Homo sapiens: one gene and its partner. The protein of the gene in region 1 interacts with the protein of each later gene in a pairwise test. Each region holds a gene or a part of one and is shown on either strand. Other genes may lie near its edges. The genes, in order: IGSF1 and HECTD1.

Region 1 (8,643 bases):
ACAATTCTTAAACTTGAAAGATAAAGAAATTGTCTCAGAAGCTGCTCAAAAAAGAAGTGATTTTCAACAAGATAAATATAGGACTGACACCTGAGTATACCTTAGTAACAGTGGATGAGAGACCAATTTGAAGCAAAATCTACTAGTTGAAGTTCCTGGGCTTGAAGCCCCATGTGAACCATTCAGCTAAGCTATCTTTCTTATTTCAAGATGAGAGGAAAATCTTTGGCAGTCAAGATGACTTCAAGGCATTTGTCAGTAAAACTCCCAAACTATTGGTTTTGCTGAAAACAGCTGCAGCCCAGGGAGAAGATACTCGCGGAGATAAGTGACTAAATTCACTTTCAAAGCCACATTTCTTAAGAGAGTGTAGATCTTATTTTTATAATTAATTGCGTTTTTGCCAGGGTGATTAGCGGAAAAGGAAGTAAAAATTTACGGTTGTACCAAGTTGTTATTATGTGTGTATATCTATAGCTATACACACACACACACACACACACACACACACACACACACACAGAATGCATGGGAAAGGATGATAAGGAAAGTTCAAAAAGGAAAATGGGAAAGAATGAAGGAGGGATAAACGGGAGGGAGAAAATGAAAACAGCAAGATAATAATTAAGCATGAGTTGGATAGGGAGACATTGAAATATGATAGATTAAGAAAAAAAATAATTTGTATTGTCTACCTGAAAGCAATCAATTATATGAACTTAACAGACTTTTATGGAGAAAGTATTTCCTCATCTTCTGTCAAGGGTACATGAATCTTTCAGAAAGTCTGACCATATCCTAGATCACAAAACAAGTAGAATTGGAAGAGATGCATGTATATTTAAATAATTGCCTGTAAACTGATGTTTTTAGGAACAGATTATAAACAGTTGGTAATATTGCAATGATGAGTTTTTAAATTGCTAATTTGTGTTGCTCTTGCAGTTTAGCCATCTTTACTTAATTTTAATCATATAATTGTTTAATCATACAATACGTAGGAATAAAAGAACCAAATTATTGACTTCTATAGTTTCCTTTGGACAAGTGATTACGAGTAAATAAATATTAGAGAGACCAGTTGTGCCTTCCCAAGCGGCATTCCCCCCTCCCCCCCCATCCCCCCACCACAACACACCCATTCCCACCCCTGCCCCACCATGCAAATGCCTACAATTTGGACACACTGGGGGCAAGTCAGACTCTGAGACAGAAAAAGGCTTTCCTGGCACTGGTATCTGGAAGCATCCTTCCTGGATCAGGCCTAAACTGCTTATAGAACCTGTGCCTGCCTGCTCTAGGCAGTGAGGCTGAGCCTACCTCCTTTCATTCTGGAGCCACCAACTTCATCCAACACAGGAAAAGGGAATACTGAAACACTTTGAAGCCCACTTTCGGAGCTCTCCTGCATTTTGGATATCTGTCTCTGAACACCCTCCCCCACCATGTACTCAGATACACACTGTTCCTCGTATAAACAAAAGCCATATTGTGATGCTAAGAGAATTGTCATTTGGAGACAGTGGACTAGTAGATTACCTTTTTTGGTAAATGGTACATAAACCAAAAAGAACTTTGTGATTCTGCTAACACTGAAACACACACACAAAAATCCTCATTTTCTCCCTCCACCCATTAAACTTGTTAAAATCACCTAGGTATTCACATTGTTGGTTTGCTTTGTGACAAGCACCCAGAAGCCTGATCATCCAGGCCTCTATCTAATGTCTAATGCCCCACTATGAGTGTTTTGATTAAATAAGTTTTAGTTCTAATTCATCACTTGAATTTGGTTTATTCTAGGAAGCTTCCTGCACACTCCTGAAAATGCCCTCAGTTATAGCTTCTGGAAATGACTTAGTGCCCCAAACTCTGCCCTTAATAATTAAAGTGCTTGACAAAAGATAAGTTGAAATTCAAGCTCTGTGAGTTGGCCCCAGCTTTCCTTTGCAGCTTTGACCTCCCCACCTCCAAAGCCTAACCCCCTCCTCATCAGGTCTTGCCGTTGGAACCTAATCTGTCTGGTTGGACCTCCTCCCTGCCCCAGAACGCCACTTGCTTAGTCCCAGCTGAGTTCCTCACTGGTATACTCCACATTGCTTCTCCATTGCAGAAAGGGATGGGGCCTGGGACTGGCTGAGGAGTGGGGTGGGATGCTAAAACACACAGTCAAACTTTGAATGCACAGACCTCTCCAGAGATCTGACACAGTCCTCAGATGGCTTACTAGAGTAGTGAGGTTGGGGACAGGGGAATGGAGCACAGTGCTCATAACTTTCTTGAGAGTGTATGAAACTTAACAGGATCCTTGAGCAGTTTGGAAACCTTCCTGTTTCCCAGTAAAAATCACTGTCCTAAAACATAAAACTGGAAAAAAAGTGGTTTGCTAGTAAATGTTTAAAAACAGCTCCAGAGATGTGAAGGTTGCTGGGAGAAACTTGATTTGTAGCATTTACTTCTTCAGTTGTGAAAATTCCCTGACTGTGGTGAAAATTCTCTGACCATGGCCACTTTCAAGCTACTACCATTATGTCATTGAATGCTGGGATGAGATAAGATGTGCACATTGGGTTCTCCTGAACCATACAGAGCTAGCCAACATCAGTACAACACTGGGAAGGGATCAGGTTTGCCCTGGGCTTCTCCTGTTTGGGATATATAAAACAGAGTTAGGTTTAAAAAATATCATCATCTTACATTAGACTCGCTTATGGAGAAAGGCTTCCCACAACACCCTGTGAACCTTGGTGCTTCACCTCTATCCTTCAAGCTCCACTTTCTTGAAGCTCTTCTATACTGTAAATGTTTTGAAAATTGGCATGGATGTTTTCACCCTGACAGATAATAACTATTACTGTTGTCTTCCAAACAACCATCAAGTTTGTCTAATGTTGCCTTCTCAATGTTTTGGGAACTCTGACCCTCCCCTCCTTCTCTGCTACTGCTCCCTAGTTTAGGCACACAGTACAAGCAAAGTGCTTGCAATTATCCAAACACATACTATCATGACTTACTTGATGATCTTTTCTATTGCAATCCTCTTTGATTCTCAAGGCTCCTCCTTCTCTGGCTGCCTCCTACTTCTTCTCTAGTATGATTTATCCTTAGACTACAAACTCCTTAAGAAGAGAAACTGTCATCCTTTCTGAACTGTCAGCATCTAGAACAATCCCTGACACAAAGAAAGTACTTAACATTTGTGTTGAATCAATGGCTGCTTGCTGTGTCCTAGGTGCTATGTGGTGGCTTACAGGAAGGTTTCCATTCAATCCTACCCCAAACCCTTCATTGTAGTAAGTGCAATTATTATCCCCATTTTACAAATAAGAAAACTGAGGCTTGGAGGCTAAATAACTTGCCCAGAAACACATCTTTTTATTCATATGCCTATTCTATTCATTACACAATAATCTATAGTTTATAATGGAAGCCACAATTGATATCACCTGATGCATGAAGATATGATAATCAATTTGGCTGTAAAAGAGCTGTTACTTTATTTTTACACAGTTTGTTCTTGAATTAAAGTGTTTTTCATTAGATAATTTGAAATCTTTTATGCAGGTAGAAAATGTACATAAAAGGCTGGGCATGGTAGCTCACGCCTGTAATCCCAGCAGTTTAGGAGGCTGAGCCTCCAGACCAGCTTGGCCAACATGGTGGGACCCCGTCTCTACTAAAAAATACAAAAACTAGCTGGGTGTGGTGGTGCGCGCCTATAATCCTAGCTACTCGGGAGGCTGAAGCAGGAGAATTGCTTGAACCTGGGAGGTGGAGGTTGCAGTGAGCCAAGATCGCACCACTGCACGCCAGCCTGGGCGACAGAGTGAGACTGTCTTAAAAAAAAGGAAATGTACATAAAGAAAAATTTGTCTATTTTTTAGCCAATTAGTCTATCATGTTGATATTTCTTATCAATTAGTCTGTGAGCCCATTGGATGCTATACTTTAATCTCATCATATGTTATATATCAGGAGCTTTGATTAGTGTCTTATTCATACATTATCATTATAAAAAGTCTTTCATAATCAACATTTGTGAAAGGTTGCTCTATATTATTAAAATCATGTTACTCTAAGACATTTGGGGAAGGGCTTACAGATTAATAGTAGTAGTAGTAGTGGTAGCAGCAGCAACCACTACCATTTATTGAGCACCTACTACATGCTAGGCCTATTGTGCTGTTAGTTTTACTTACATCATCCCATTGAGGCCTTGTGAAATAGGTTCTGCTGTTTTTTGTTTGTTTGTTTGTTTTTTACTTTACTGTTGGGGAACCTGGGACTCAGAGAGTTTACTCACTTGCTTGAGGTCACACAACTATTGAATGTAAAATGTGGACTAAAATATACATTTGTATGTCTCTAAAGCCTGGGCTTTTACCCCAAGATGGACTTTGAAGGCTGTCCAAGTTACTTAACCCTCTCTGAGTTTCCGTTTCCTCATCTGTAAAACTGAGGGGAGTAACACTTATTTTGCAGAGTTGCTCTGAAGATGAGAAATAATGGATCCCAGGGCCCAGGGGCACACAGTAGGCACTTAAACTGTGGTGATGTTTATGCATAAATGGGGCGTTAAAATGGGCAGGGGAAGATCTGAGATCCCGATAAAGGTATTGGGGAGCTGGAGAGAAGGATCTACAAATCTTCTTGAGAGCTGGCCTTCTCCCCCCCACAATACAGTGACCCAGTGAAACTCTGAGAGACAGGCGAGGGGGCAGGGGCCTGAATTTGGCTCCAGCAACCTCTGCAGGGAGTCCGGAGAGAGGCGGGGAGCTGGGAGGGGCGTAGAAATCCCCGTCGTCAGAGGACTGCAGGTGCCAGGCAGAGTTGGTGTAGGTGGGCTCCCCGAGCCCGGCGCAGGGAGGGGAGGAGGTTGGGGCGGGCCGGCAGGCGGGCGGGGGAGAGAGGAAGGCGGGGCTCAGAGCCGAAGAGGCTGTCCTTAGACAGCTCTTCTCATGCCGGGCAGTTTGCTGCATCTGGAGGAGCTCACTGGAGAATCTCCAACATCGGAGCGGGCCTTCAACTACCGTAAGTACCTACAAATGAGCGCATAGTTCAGTGGCTGAATATTAAATACTGGCCACCGGATCCTAAACAAAACCCCGAAAGAGTCTCCTTGCTGTAATTAATTGCCGTAAATCAAACTGCTCCCCAGTCTGTCCCCCCACCCGCTTCATTCCTGCCTTTCTCCTTTCCTTCCCGGATCCCAGACCTGCCTCGGTGAGAATCTCTGGGCACTGTAGATATCTCCCCTTTTCCTTCTCAGTCTTCCCTCCAAACCCTCAGCTGAGCATGTACCCGGCACCCCGCCGAGCCCAACCCCTTTGATTCCTGGAGCCCTCAAAGCTATGCAGGGGGCGAGCCATTAGACATTTCAGATATGTCACCCTCAAAAGCACTGCGGCGCTGCCTAAGGGTGGGGAAAGTGCTTGGGGTGGAGTAGGAGGGAAGGGTAAAACGGCTAGGCAGCCAAAGTTGGGGGTGGGGGTGGGGTGAAAGGCCAAAATGGGCGTGGCCAACTAACCCAAGGCTTGGGGCTGTTCTCATGTTCCCCCGGTATAAGATTCATCATCTGGGCTGAATATAAATGGTACAATTTCCTTAGTGATTGAGGAGGGGTCAGCCATGCCAAAAAGCCCAGCTTCCCTGACTCCCCTCAATCCCCCAGTAGGCAAAGATCCTGGTTTAGGGGTCCAAGTGGCAAGGCTGAAACCTCAGATGGCATTTCCTGGGTGTAATCCCAGGTTGAACCTCTCCCTTGGCAGTGGAACCTGGCTTCCCCCAAAAACTCCTGGCCCAAAGCCCCAGGGTAACAAAGCAACAGGGTAGCATCCAAGCTTTGGCCTGGCCCTGAGAGGAGTGGGAGCAAGGGACTGTAGGAACTGAGATGGAAAGGGCATCTTTAGGGCCCTACACCAGTTGGATGCCCCCTTTGAAAAGAAGAAAAAATAAGCATCTTTTTAAAATGTAATGTTCACTATGTGCCTGGCACTGTACATGTATTATCTCTAACCCAACACAACAATAATGTTAGGTCGATATTACTCCTCCACTTTACAGATAAGGAAAATTCAGAGTGGGTAATCTGAAAATCCTTTGATACAAAGTGAAAAATGTACAATGGACCTATGCTTCCTTGGATTTCTCACTGTCCACTTGTTCCCTACAGTCCAGATATTTTGAACACGAAATATCCTCCTCTTCCTGCTCCTCCATCCTACCCAGTGTTAGCACTGGGGCAAGTTTGAGGCTGAGGTCCAAGGTCAGTCTGGAAAAGCAAAATCAGTTCCTTTCTCTATTCTGGGAGCTGCCTCTTCCCCACTCTTCTGAGCTAAGATTTAATAACAGCTGGAGTCAGCCAGGACTTCAGACTCCCAGTAGAAAGTTGGTGGAAGAGAATTAGCTTGAGTTTGCGTGGCTGGGACATACCTTCCCTTGGTGAAAGGTTACTGTGGGGGGAGGTGGAGAGAGGCATGAAAGCTCAAGAGTCTACCTTGTGTATATGCAAGGCCTATGGTAAATAATGACTTTGGTCAGGGAGAATGGAAAGCCTCCCTGAACTCAAATATCTTTGCCGTATTTCCTGAGATTCAAACAATTCCATTTCCCTTAGAGGCAATCAACAAAACTGTTTAGAAGTTAAGGGCAACGAAAGAATCATTTAGACCTTATGTAAATTAACTCAAGCAGCTTGATTTTCTAACACATGCTTGACACTGGGGTATTGAGCTTTTAGGGGTAGGAGACAAGAATGAGAGTAATATTGGATCTAAAGCATTCTATGGAAGGGAAGGATATCCAAGGGATCAAGTGAGAGGGGTAAGGGAGGGTGAAGAGGGAGTGAAGGGTACCTCTGGGAGTTTAAATCATTGTTTTAGATCCATAGGCCTTGGAGTTAAACATGGATTCTAATTTGGGCTCTAATATTTAATATCTTTTGACTTTGGGCAAATTATATAACCTCTCTAAGCCTCAGTTTGTTCATCAGTAAAATGGGGATGGTAGTAATGCCCCCTCTCTTAAGTTGTTGGAGGACTCTCTCTCTCTCTCTATATATATATATACACACACACACACATATATACGTATATATATACACACATATATACGTATATATACACACATATATATACATGTATATACACATATATATACGTATATAAACATACGTATATATATATATATGCATATCTGAAAAGGTGACTCTGCACCTCCCATCTCCCCCATCCTGTGGAGCTTCTGCAGGCTATTCTGGGCTTCTGAGATCCCAGAGACAAATCCATATTTCAACAAATCTGACATCTTTGATACCAACAAAGACCTTGAGCAGGATAGGGAAGTGAGGGAAAGGAGCAAGGAGAGGAAGCAGCAGGTGACCTTGTAATACCCTGCATGCCTGTGAGGAAGTACAATGTAGGGTTGTCAAGTGCAATTTAGCCATCTAAACTAAACTTTAAGGAGCAGGACAAGTCCTCTGAGTAAAAACAATTCTGCTTTTAGATCCCACCACCTGCTGAGGAGAAAAATTCTTCAAGACTCAGAGCACACAGCCAGCACCAGAGGCCCCATGACCCTGGACAGACCAGGGGAGGGGGCCACCATGCTGAAGACATTCACTGTTTTGCTCTTTTGCATTCGTGAGTACAAGGAAGGGGTGAGGGGCAAGTGACCCTGTCATAGGTACCCACTCATTAGGGGTGGGAGAGGAAAGTATTGAGGTTTGAGCACAGGATGGAGACAACAAGGGAGCTCTCCTTTACCATAATCTCTCTTTTCAGGGATGAGTCTGGGTATGACATCAATAGGTAAGTGAGTCCTGCCCTCTCAGGCACCTCCTTCCTAAAGGATCCAAGATGCTGGCGTGTCTCCATGACCTTGGACATAATGCCTTGAGATTCCAGAGATAGATTGGGCTGATTGGGAATCAGAGGACTTGGTTTCCTATGGCATGGTGAAAAAGCTTTATCTCAGATGGAAAAGAGACCATCAGACTTTATTCTCCAATTCATTTGGACCCCTTGACAAAATATCTTGGGGTTCTTATACGATGCCCCACAGGAGCACACTCCTGTCCCCAAGGGAAGACAAAATGAGGGATCTGGGTCCGGGCTAATTTTAAGGGACATTGTGGGACATGTTATGGGAGGGAGAGGGTTGGACTGCTCATATCTTTTTGATCTTTGGGAATAACAGTGATGGACCCTCAACCAGAGTTGTGGATAGAGTCCAACTACCCCCAGGCCCCTTGGGAGAACATCACGCTTTGGTGCCGAAGCCCCTCTCGGATATCAAGCAAGTTCCTGCTGCTGAAGGATAAGACACAGATGACCTGGATCCGCCCTTCCCACAAGACCTTCCAAGTTTCATTCCTTATAGGTGCCCTTACTGAGTCCAATGCAGGTCTTTACCGGTGCTGCTACTGGAAGGAGACAGGCTGGTCAAAGCCCAGTAAAGTTCTAGAGTTGGAGGCACCAGGTAAGATGACAGTGATACTCAAGAATCAACTCCAGCTCCTGAGATTCAAACTTGCCTTCCAGGGGAGAGTTTGTTTCACAAATGCATGCAAGCATGCATCCCACAGTTAGTAAATAAGGGCCTACTTTGTATTGGGCAATGCAGAGGGGGGATGCAGACTCTGGA
Region 2 (8,442 bases), on another chromosome or scaffold:
TTGAACGTTGAAGGGAATAATGACTAACATGGAATTCTTTAGATTAGACCAAGTGCATGATCTTAAAGCTACCTCATGTAATGCATGTGAAATATCATAGACTTTATAATTGGGAAAGGCCAACATTTGGTTTTTCCTGTTGTAGGGTTGCTGGTCTATAGAGCATGTGGAGCAGTACCTTGGCACTGATGAATTACCAAAGAATGACTTGATAACCTACCTGCAGAAGAATGCAGACGCTGCTTTCCTGCGCCACTGGAAATTAACTGGCACTAATAAAAGTATTAGGAAAAACAGAAATTGTTCTCAGCTCATAGCTGCATATAAGGTATATATTGGCATCAAAACACTATTTTGATTGCAAATGGCTTCGTGCTTTGTTTTGCAGCTTTGGAAGCTTCTTAAGGAACAGCAGTTCATTGAGACATAATTTTAAAAATGAGGTTGAATTAACACTGTTAATGCACAAATTCTAAAATTTCAAATATGGCTGGTAGCATTGGATCTGAATGCAGACTTTGACCATGGCTTAGAGTGGTTATATTTTATTTGGGAATTTTAATGGTTTAGAATGCCTTGATTTATGTCTTGTGTTATGTTTTTATTTAAAAAGAAGGCACTTTAAAAAATTCCAACCCTTTCATAGTGGTATTGATACAATGATACACTGTTTTTCTTGAAAATGTGATTAATGGCCAGTTTTTCTAATTGTTTCTATAGGATTTTTGTGAGCATGGAACAAAGTCTGGGTTAAACCAGGGGGCCATTTCTACTCTTCAAAGTAGTGATATTCTTAATTTAACAAAAGAACAACCTCAGGCCAAAGCAGGCAATGGACAGAACTCTTGTGGAGTAGAAGATGTCCTTCAGCTTCTGCGTATTCTATATATAGTTGCAAGTGACCCTTATTCAAGAATATCCCAGGAAGGTCTGTAAGAAGCCTTGTTTCATTTCTATAGCAGTTTTAAAGCAAGTCAGTTTATATTTTTATTAATTTTATTAATTAATTTTATAGATGGTGATGAACAGCCTCAGTTTACTTTTCCACCAGATGAATTCACTAGCAAAAAAATTACAACAAAAATATTACAGCAGATTGAGGTAATAAAATCAGACAGCTGAACTCTTCATTCTATTACTGTTGGACTTTTCCTAATATTCCCTTTACTTTCTTTTCTACCTCTCACCATCTTTCCCTTCCCTCTGATTGGTAATTTGAGCTATATGGTCCTTTGCATTTATTTCCTAATTACAGGTTTATAATTGACTTGGTAATTTTTAATAATTGCCTTATAGGGTCAGGTGTGGTGGCTCATGCCTGTAATTCCAGCATTTTGGGGGCCAAGGTGGGTGTATCGTTAGAGGCTAGGAGTTCGAGACCAGCCTGGCCAATATGGCGAAACCCAGTCTCTACTAAAAATACAAAAATTAGCTGGGCACGGTGGCACATGCCTATAATCCCAGCTACTTGGGTGGCTAGGGCAGGAGAATCGCTTGAACCCAGGAGGCAGAGGCTGCAGTGAGCCGAGATCGTACCACTGCACACCAGCCTGGGCAACAGAGTGAGACTCTGTCTCAAAAAAAAAAATGAACGAATGAATGAATGCATGCATGCATGAATGCCTTATAGCACTAAGACATTATTATTTGTTAATTCGCAGGAACCATTGGCACTGGCAAGTGGGGCTCTGCCAGACTGGTGTGAACAATTAACCAGCAAATGTCCTTTTCTAATACCATTTGAAACTAGACAGCTTTATTTCACATGTACAGCATTTGGCGCCTCAAGGTAAGAAGCCTTTTTTTTATGTTTTTAGAATAAGTATGCTTTTATGTTATGTAAGTTGAAAATGTACAACTATACTGTCAAGACTGATAGAGGGAATATATTATCTTGTATTCTTATAAAGAATAGTCAGCATTGCCTTTTGGCCTGAACTACCAATCTTCTAGTAATTCGCCAAAATGACTAATCCAAAGGAAAGGAGGAGAGATACCCGATAGATGTTTTCTAGGTCTTTTAGAAAACATGGAGTTGTTCCTTTGGCCACGTATATGCAAATCTAAAAGAGAGGTGATACTGTAGACATTAAGGGAATGGGTACTGTTCAAAAAGGAATGCCCCACAAGTGTTACCGTGGCTAAACTGGAAGAGTCTACAGTGTTACCCAGCAGGCTGTTGGCATTGCTGTTTTTTTGTTTTTGTTTTTGTTTTTGTTTTTTTGAGACAGAGTCTCGCTCTGTCGCCCAGGCAGGAGTGCAGTGGTGTGATCTCGGCTCACTGCAACCTCCGCCTCCCAGGTTCAAGCGATTCTCCTGCCTCAGCCCCACTGAGTGGCTGGGATTACAGGTGCACGCCACCACGCGTGGCTAATGGCATTGTTGTAAACAAACAAGGGCAAGATTCTTACCAAGAGAATTAATGTGCATATTGAGCACATTAAGCACTCTAAGAGCCGAGATAGCTTCCTGAAACACATGAAGGAAAATGATCAGAAAAAGAAGGAAGCCAAAGAGAAAGGTACCTGCATTTAGCTGAAGTGCCAGCCTGTTCCACCCAGAGAAGCGCGCTGTGTGAAAACCAAGGGAAAGAAGTCTGAGCTGCTGGAACCTCTTCTCTGTGAATTCATGCATAATAGTGTTTAAAAAAAATAGCCAGGCGCGGTGGCTCACACCTGTAATCCCAGCACTTTGGGAGGCCGAGGCGGGCAGATCATGAGGTTAGGAGATCGAGACCATCCTGGCTAACGTGGTGAAACCCCATCTCTACTAAAAATACAAAAAGTTAGCTGTGTGTGGTGGTGGGCACCTGTAGTCTCAGCTACTTGGGAGGCTGAGGCAGGAGAATGGCGTGAACCTGGGAAGTGGAGCTTGCAGTGAGTAGAGATTGTGCCACTGCACTCCAGCCTGGGCGACAGAGCGAGACTCCATCTCAAAAAAATAAAAAATAAAGATAAAAATAAAAGACCTCTGGACTGTAAAAATGTTTCTCTTCCTTGAGTAGAAGTGTGGTGTCCTCTCCCCCAAAGAAATACTTCAGGCAAATTTTAATTTTGTCCTAAGCCTAATTGTGTAATGTCTTTACTATTCAAATTTAATGTATTTCTTGCTGAAAGATGTGAGATGGCTTATTGTGCAACAAATTACTCAATTGGTTAGAAAATGGTCAGATATTATTTACGAAATATTTGTACTACTTTGAAGATAGTCCCTCTAATCATGGAAGAAGTAATTTACCAAAAAAAAAAAAGCATTTAAAAAGTTTCTGTTTTCAGGCTGGGCACGGTGGCCCATGCCTATAATTCCAGCACTTTGGGAGGCCAAGGCAGACACATCACTCGAGGCCAGGAGTTCGAGACCAGCCTGGCCAATGTGGCAAAACCCCATCTCTACAAAAAAACACAAAAATTAGCTGGGCGTAATTCCAGCTTTTTAGGAGGCTGAGGCATAAGAATTTGCTTGAACCCGGGAGGCAGAGGTTGCAGTGAGCTGAGATTGCACCACTGCACTCCAGCCTGGGCAACAGAGCAAGACTCATTGTAGGTGCTCAATAAATATTTTGTTGAATGATTGTTTACCTTAAGTACTCTTCCAAAATAGTTGTAAAAAAAAAGTTATAATTTAAACTGTTTGTTTTCTTCCCTGATAGTTACATTTTTGTACCATTTAATGCCATTTACAAAGCATTTATATACATAGAACTATAGGCATGTTGTGATAACTGGCATTGATTATAATTTGTTTTATAAATGAGGAAATTGATTCTGCACGTACTTAGCTGATTTGCCTAAGATCATGAGAAAATAGTAGCACACATGAGAGTAGAACCTTCAGCTTCTTATTCCTAATTGTCGGTTCTTCCTCCCACCATAAATGGATTGTTATTAAAAAAAAGAAAATGTGGCCGGGTGTGGCGGCTCATGCCTGTAATCATAGCACTTTGGGAGGCTGAGGCGGGTGGATCAGTTAAGGCCAGAAATTCAAGACCAGCCTGGGCAACATGGCAGAACCCCCATCTCTACTAAAAATACAAAAATTAGCTGGGCGTGGTGGCACACACCTGTAATCCCAGCTACTGGGGAGGCTGAGGCAGGAGAATCACTTGAACCCGGGATAGGGAGGTTGCAGTGGGCCGAGATAATGCCACTGTACTCCAGCCTGGGTGACAGAACAAGACTCCATCTCAAAAAAAAAAAAGAAAAATTGTTTTAAAATTATAATTACCGTTTTGATGGCGGCTTTCAGTTTGAAAGATAGCTTAATCATTTCTAAATTTCTCTGATAGGAAACATTTTTCCTTTTTTTGAATGATGTTGGGGCTTGGACAACAGATTATTATTTTTATTGAACTGCTAAAATAAGGAGGCAAAATATAGACCCAGTACTTTCTCAGTTTGCTTAAGGCAGATTATAATAAAAGGAGTTTCATATATTTTTACTTGTGACAGGAAGCAGTTTATGTAACAAAAAAAGATTACTGTGTTTTAAAAATCACCTGATAAAATACTATTTTTTAATTTCTTAAATCTTTGAATTCTGTTGCTGGTTTAGTAGTACATTCAGCTGTTAACGTATGCTGCAGCTCATAGATATTTTTCTATTTCAGAGCAATAGTATGGTTACAGAACCGACGTGAAGCCACTGTGGAGCGAACGAGAACCACAAGCAGTGTTAGGCGAGATGACCCTGGAGAGTTTCGAGTTGGTCGTCTCAAGCATGAAAGAGTAAAAGTTCCACGTGGCGAGTCACTGATGGAATGGGCTGAGAATGTCATGCAAATACATGCAGATCGGAAATCAGTTCTTGAGGTAATCTCATATAAAATTAGATTTAGGGAACAGGAATGACACTTAGGGAACCAGCCCAATGTGTATCTTCACTGCATTAAAAACTGTGGTAGGTAAACATGAAGAGGGGTTTTCCTGTTCTGTAGGCAGAAGCCTTCTCCTCTGGCAGAGCATCTTTTTCATAAGAGGATGTCAGTCCACCTCCTTAGGGGTTAGGTCTTGTGCCATTAATGAGCAACAAAGAAGATCTCCACTCTTGAGGTGGCAAAGTGCTTGTTCTGCTTGAGGGCTTCTACCCATTTCATAACAAAGTTGGACTAAAATAGTAGTACTCACAAGGGATTCTTTTTTACTTTTACATTAAACTGTGCTGTTTGATATTTTGGGAGCACCTGGTTTTGTAATATTGTTTCACTTGAATTGTGCTTGGTATTATATCACTGGTCTGTGTTGAGACATGTTATAGCAAATGGTAGTATGACATTTAATATATTTAGTTTAGAAATGTTACTGTGGACATTGTTGGTTTTATTTCATATACACAGTATTCCCTATATGAGGAAGAGTGGAAATACGTCTCCTGTCACAGGGGTGAATCCAACTGGTTTGTTTTTAACTTTTGGATCATAAACTAATTGCAAGAAATATGATACATCTCTAGAAGATGTCCAAGGCTTTACATCTTTCACTTTATATACAGACTTTCATTGTATTCCTCCTACCCTTATGTTCTTCTTCTTCTTTTTTTTTTTTTTTAATAGAGACAAGTTCTCACTATGTTTCCCAGGCTGGTCTCAAACTCCTGGGCTCAAGTGATCCACCCGTTTCGGCCTCCCAAAGTGCTGGGATTACAGGCTTGAGCCACCATGCCCAGTTGTTTACATTCTTCTAATATAGATAATCTTTTTTTTTAACCATATGCTGTAGTTTTTATTATACTTTATGCAATCACTTTAAGGGTTTTTGTCCATACTCTTCCTGTTGCAAAAATGATTTAAAGTGTCTTTAACTCAGAAATAAGCAGAAGAGGCGAGGCGCAGTGGCTCATGCCTGTAATCCCAGCACTTTGGGAGGCTGAGGTGGGTGGATCACCTGAGGTCAAGAGTTTGAGACCAGCCGGACCAACATAGTAAAACCCTGTCTCTACTGAAAATACAGAATTAGCCAGGCATGGTGGTGCATGCCGTAATCCCACCTACTTGGGAGGCCGAGGCAGGAAAATCGCCTGAACCCGGGAGGCAGAGGTTGCAGTGAGCTGAGATCGTGCCACTGCACTCCATCCTGGGCGACAAGAGTGAAACTGTCTCAAAAAATAAAAATTAAAAAGTGGAAGAGTCTAGGCTTTGGTGTCACACAGAGACACACAAAAGTCTGTTCACCATCATTTCTTCAAGCAAATGATTTAACCTCCTTATCTGAGATTTGGTTTCCTTTGGTGTAAAAAGGAAATAATTATTTTGCAGGGTTGTTGTGAGAAGTAAATGTATGAATGATGCTTGGCACAGTGCTTAAGCATGTAATAGTGTACAACAAGTGGACTCTTTAGGAAAATTAAAATAACACTTCTGTGCTGTTTATTATATATATACACTGCTATTTTGAAAAAAGGTACATTACTGGATCAGATATGATAAATTTTGACAAGAATTAGATTATTTTTAAAAACACCCCAAACTTTACGTTTAACCCACAATTTATTTGTTCATATTTTAGGTTGAATTTTTAGGAGAAGAAGGAACTGGCTTGGGACCCACATTAGAGTTTTATGCTCTGGTGGCAGCAGAATTCCAGAGAACTGACTTGGGAGCTTGGCTTTGTGATGATAATTTTCCAGATGATGAATCTCGTCACGTAAGAATATTTCTCATTTTGTGACTTGAGTTGTGACTCTGCTTTCAAAAGTGTTAAAAATAGGTTATGTGTTCAGAGCATAAGCCAGGTTTCTGACTCTACTTTTATTATTGAATAATCTTGATGCAATTAAAATAGTTCTAAAGCGATAAAATTTAGTCACCAAAAGCTATTTAATAAAATTATATACTTTTAGATAGCCAAATTCATGAAGATGTTTAATGTTTATGGATTTTTTTCTTAGATGATGATAGGCTTAGTTTCTATTAACTTTTGTTTAATTTTATTTGCATTTCACCCTCTAAAAAATTAGGTTGATCTTGGAGGTGGATTGAAACCTCCTGGATATTATGTGCAGAGGTCATGTGGACTGTTCACAGCACCATTTCCACAGGATAGTGATGAGCTTGAAAGGATCACGAAACTGTTTCATTTCCTTGGAATTTTCTTGGCCAAATGCATTCAAGACAATAGACTTGTGGACTTACCTATTTCTAAACCTTTTTTTAAACTTATGTGTATGGGTGACATTAAAAGCAATATGAGTAAACTGATTTATGAGTCACGAGGTGATAGAGACTTACACTGTACTGAAAGTCAGTCTGAAGCTTCTACAGAAGAAGGTCATGATTCACTCTCGGTAGGAAGCTTTGAAGAGGATTCAAAATCAGAATTTATTCTTGATCCCCCTAAACCAAAACCCCCAGCTTGGTTTAATGGAATTTTGACTTGGGAAGACTTTGAATTAGTAAACCCACACAGAGCCAGATTTTTAAAAGAAATTAAAGACCTTGCTATCAAGAGGCGCCAAATTTTAAGCAACAAAGGTCTTTCTGAAGATGAGAAGAACACAAAATTACAGGAACTAGTGCTGAAGAATCCATCAGGTTCTGGGCCTCCACTTAGCATAGAGGATTTAGGGTAAGCATTATATGTACATTCTTCAATCCAATGCATGAATAAGTTTTAAAGCTTTTGTTTCTTTGTCGTCACTGATTTGCAATATATGAGTAAATAGTCTGTCAAAAACAGTAATATGCTGTAGGAAATATTGATGATCGACTTGAACCTTTGATTTAATATTATAAAGACAACACTCAGAATACTAGAATATTAGTTTATTAATCATCAAACCTTTAGAAGATTACCTGACTTAGCCAATGTGAATTTATATGCCTGTGTAAAATGTCCAGAGCCAACAATATTTTGACAAATTCATCTGCTAATATATGATTCACTTTGCAAAGCTCAAAAATTGGTTGGTATGTCAGCTTTATCACCAAAGGCTGTAGCAGTTGAGATGCTGCAGAACTTTTGATAAAACTCTGTTACTTTATGTACAGGTAATTATCATATCTTCAGCTGTGATTTTAGGTTAACTGCAAGGCCTTTTTTTTTTAATGTTTGCTGATAATGTTGGTAAACTGTGTTTGATAAATGGTTATATATTCAAGGTTTTTTTTAATATATATTTTTGTACACAGCGTGATTGACTTCAGTAAAGCAACAGTTTCTTCCTAAAAGTCTTACAAACATGTTGCTGTCATAATTCATTGCAAAATTTTTAGTTCATTAATTTTGTGCCATAAGTTAGAAGTAAAATATAGAAAGGTGGTTTCATGCAATCTTTGCAAAGCCAGACAGATTTGATAACAGTTGGCCTAGTAGATTTTGTCCATAGAATATTGCATTTAAAAAGTCCTCAACTTACTTCTAAGCTGGTGTACTGATTTTGTTGGAGGAGGAGAGGGGTGGGATTTATGGTTTTGATAGCCATGTTATTTTATTTAATTTTTTCTCTTGT

What was found.
Region 2: the proteins of IGSF1 (region 1) and HECTD1 interact in a two-hybrid assay, tested with the Homo sapiens proteins (one study listed by BioGRID and IntAct).

Annotation. Positions count from the first base shown.
Region 1 is NC_000023.11:131,285,602-131,294,244, reverse strand, and holds the start of IGSF1 (immunoglobulin superfamily member 1 isoform 1 precursor), read left to right. Parts: upstream 1-4,938; 5' UTR 4,939-5,031; intron 5,032-5,183; exon of another isoform or gene 5,184-5,223; intron 5,224-7,503; 5' UTR 7,504-7,570; coding exon 7,571-7,640; intron 7,641-7,781; coding exon 7,782-7,808; intron 7,809-8,196; coding exon 8,197-8,478; intron 8,479-8,643. UniProt on the Homo sapiens protein: Seems to be a coreceptor in inhibin signaling, but seems not to be a high-affinity inhibin receptor. Antagonizes activin A signaling in the presence or absence of inhibin B.
Region 2 is NC_000014.9:31,105,763-31,114,204, reverse strand, and holds part of HECTD1 (E3 ubiquitin-protein ligase HECTD1), read left to right. Parts: intron 1-145; coding exon 146-328; intron 329-720; coding exon 721-928; intron 929-1,015; coding exon 1,016-1,101; intron 1,102-1,661; coding exon 1,662-1,789; intron 1,790-4,606; coding exon 4,607-4,808; intron 4,809-6,500; coding exon 6,501-6,638; intron 6,639-6,951; coding exon 6,952-7,559; intron 7,560-8,442. UniProt on the Homo sapiens protein: E3 ubiquitin-protein ligase which accepts ubiquitin from an E2 ubiquitin-conjugating enzyme in the form of a thioester and then directly transfers the ubiquitin to targeted substrates.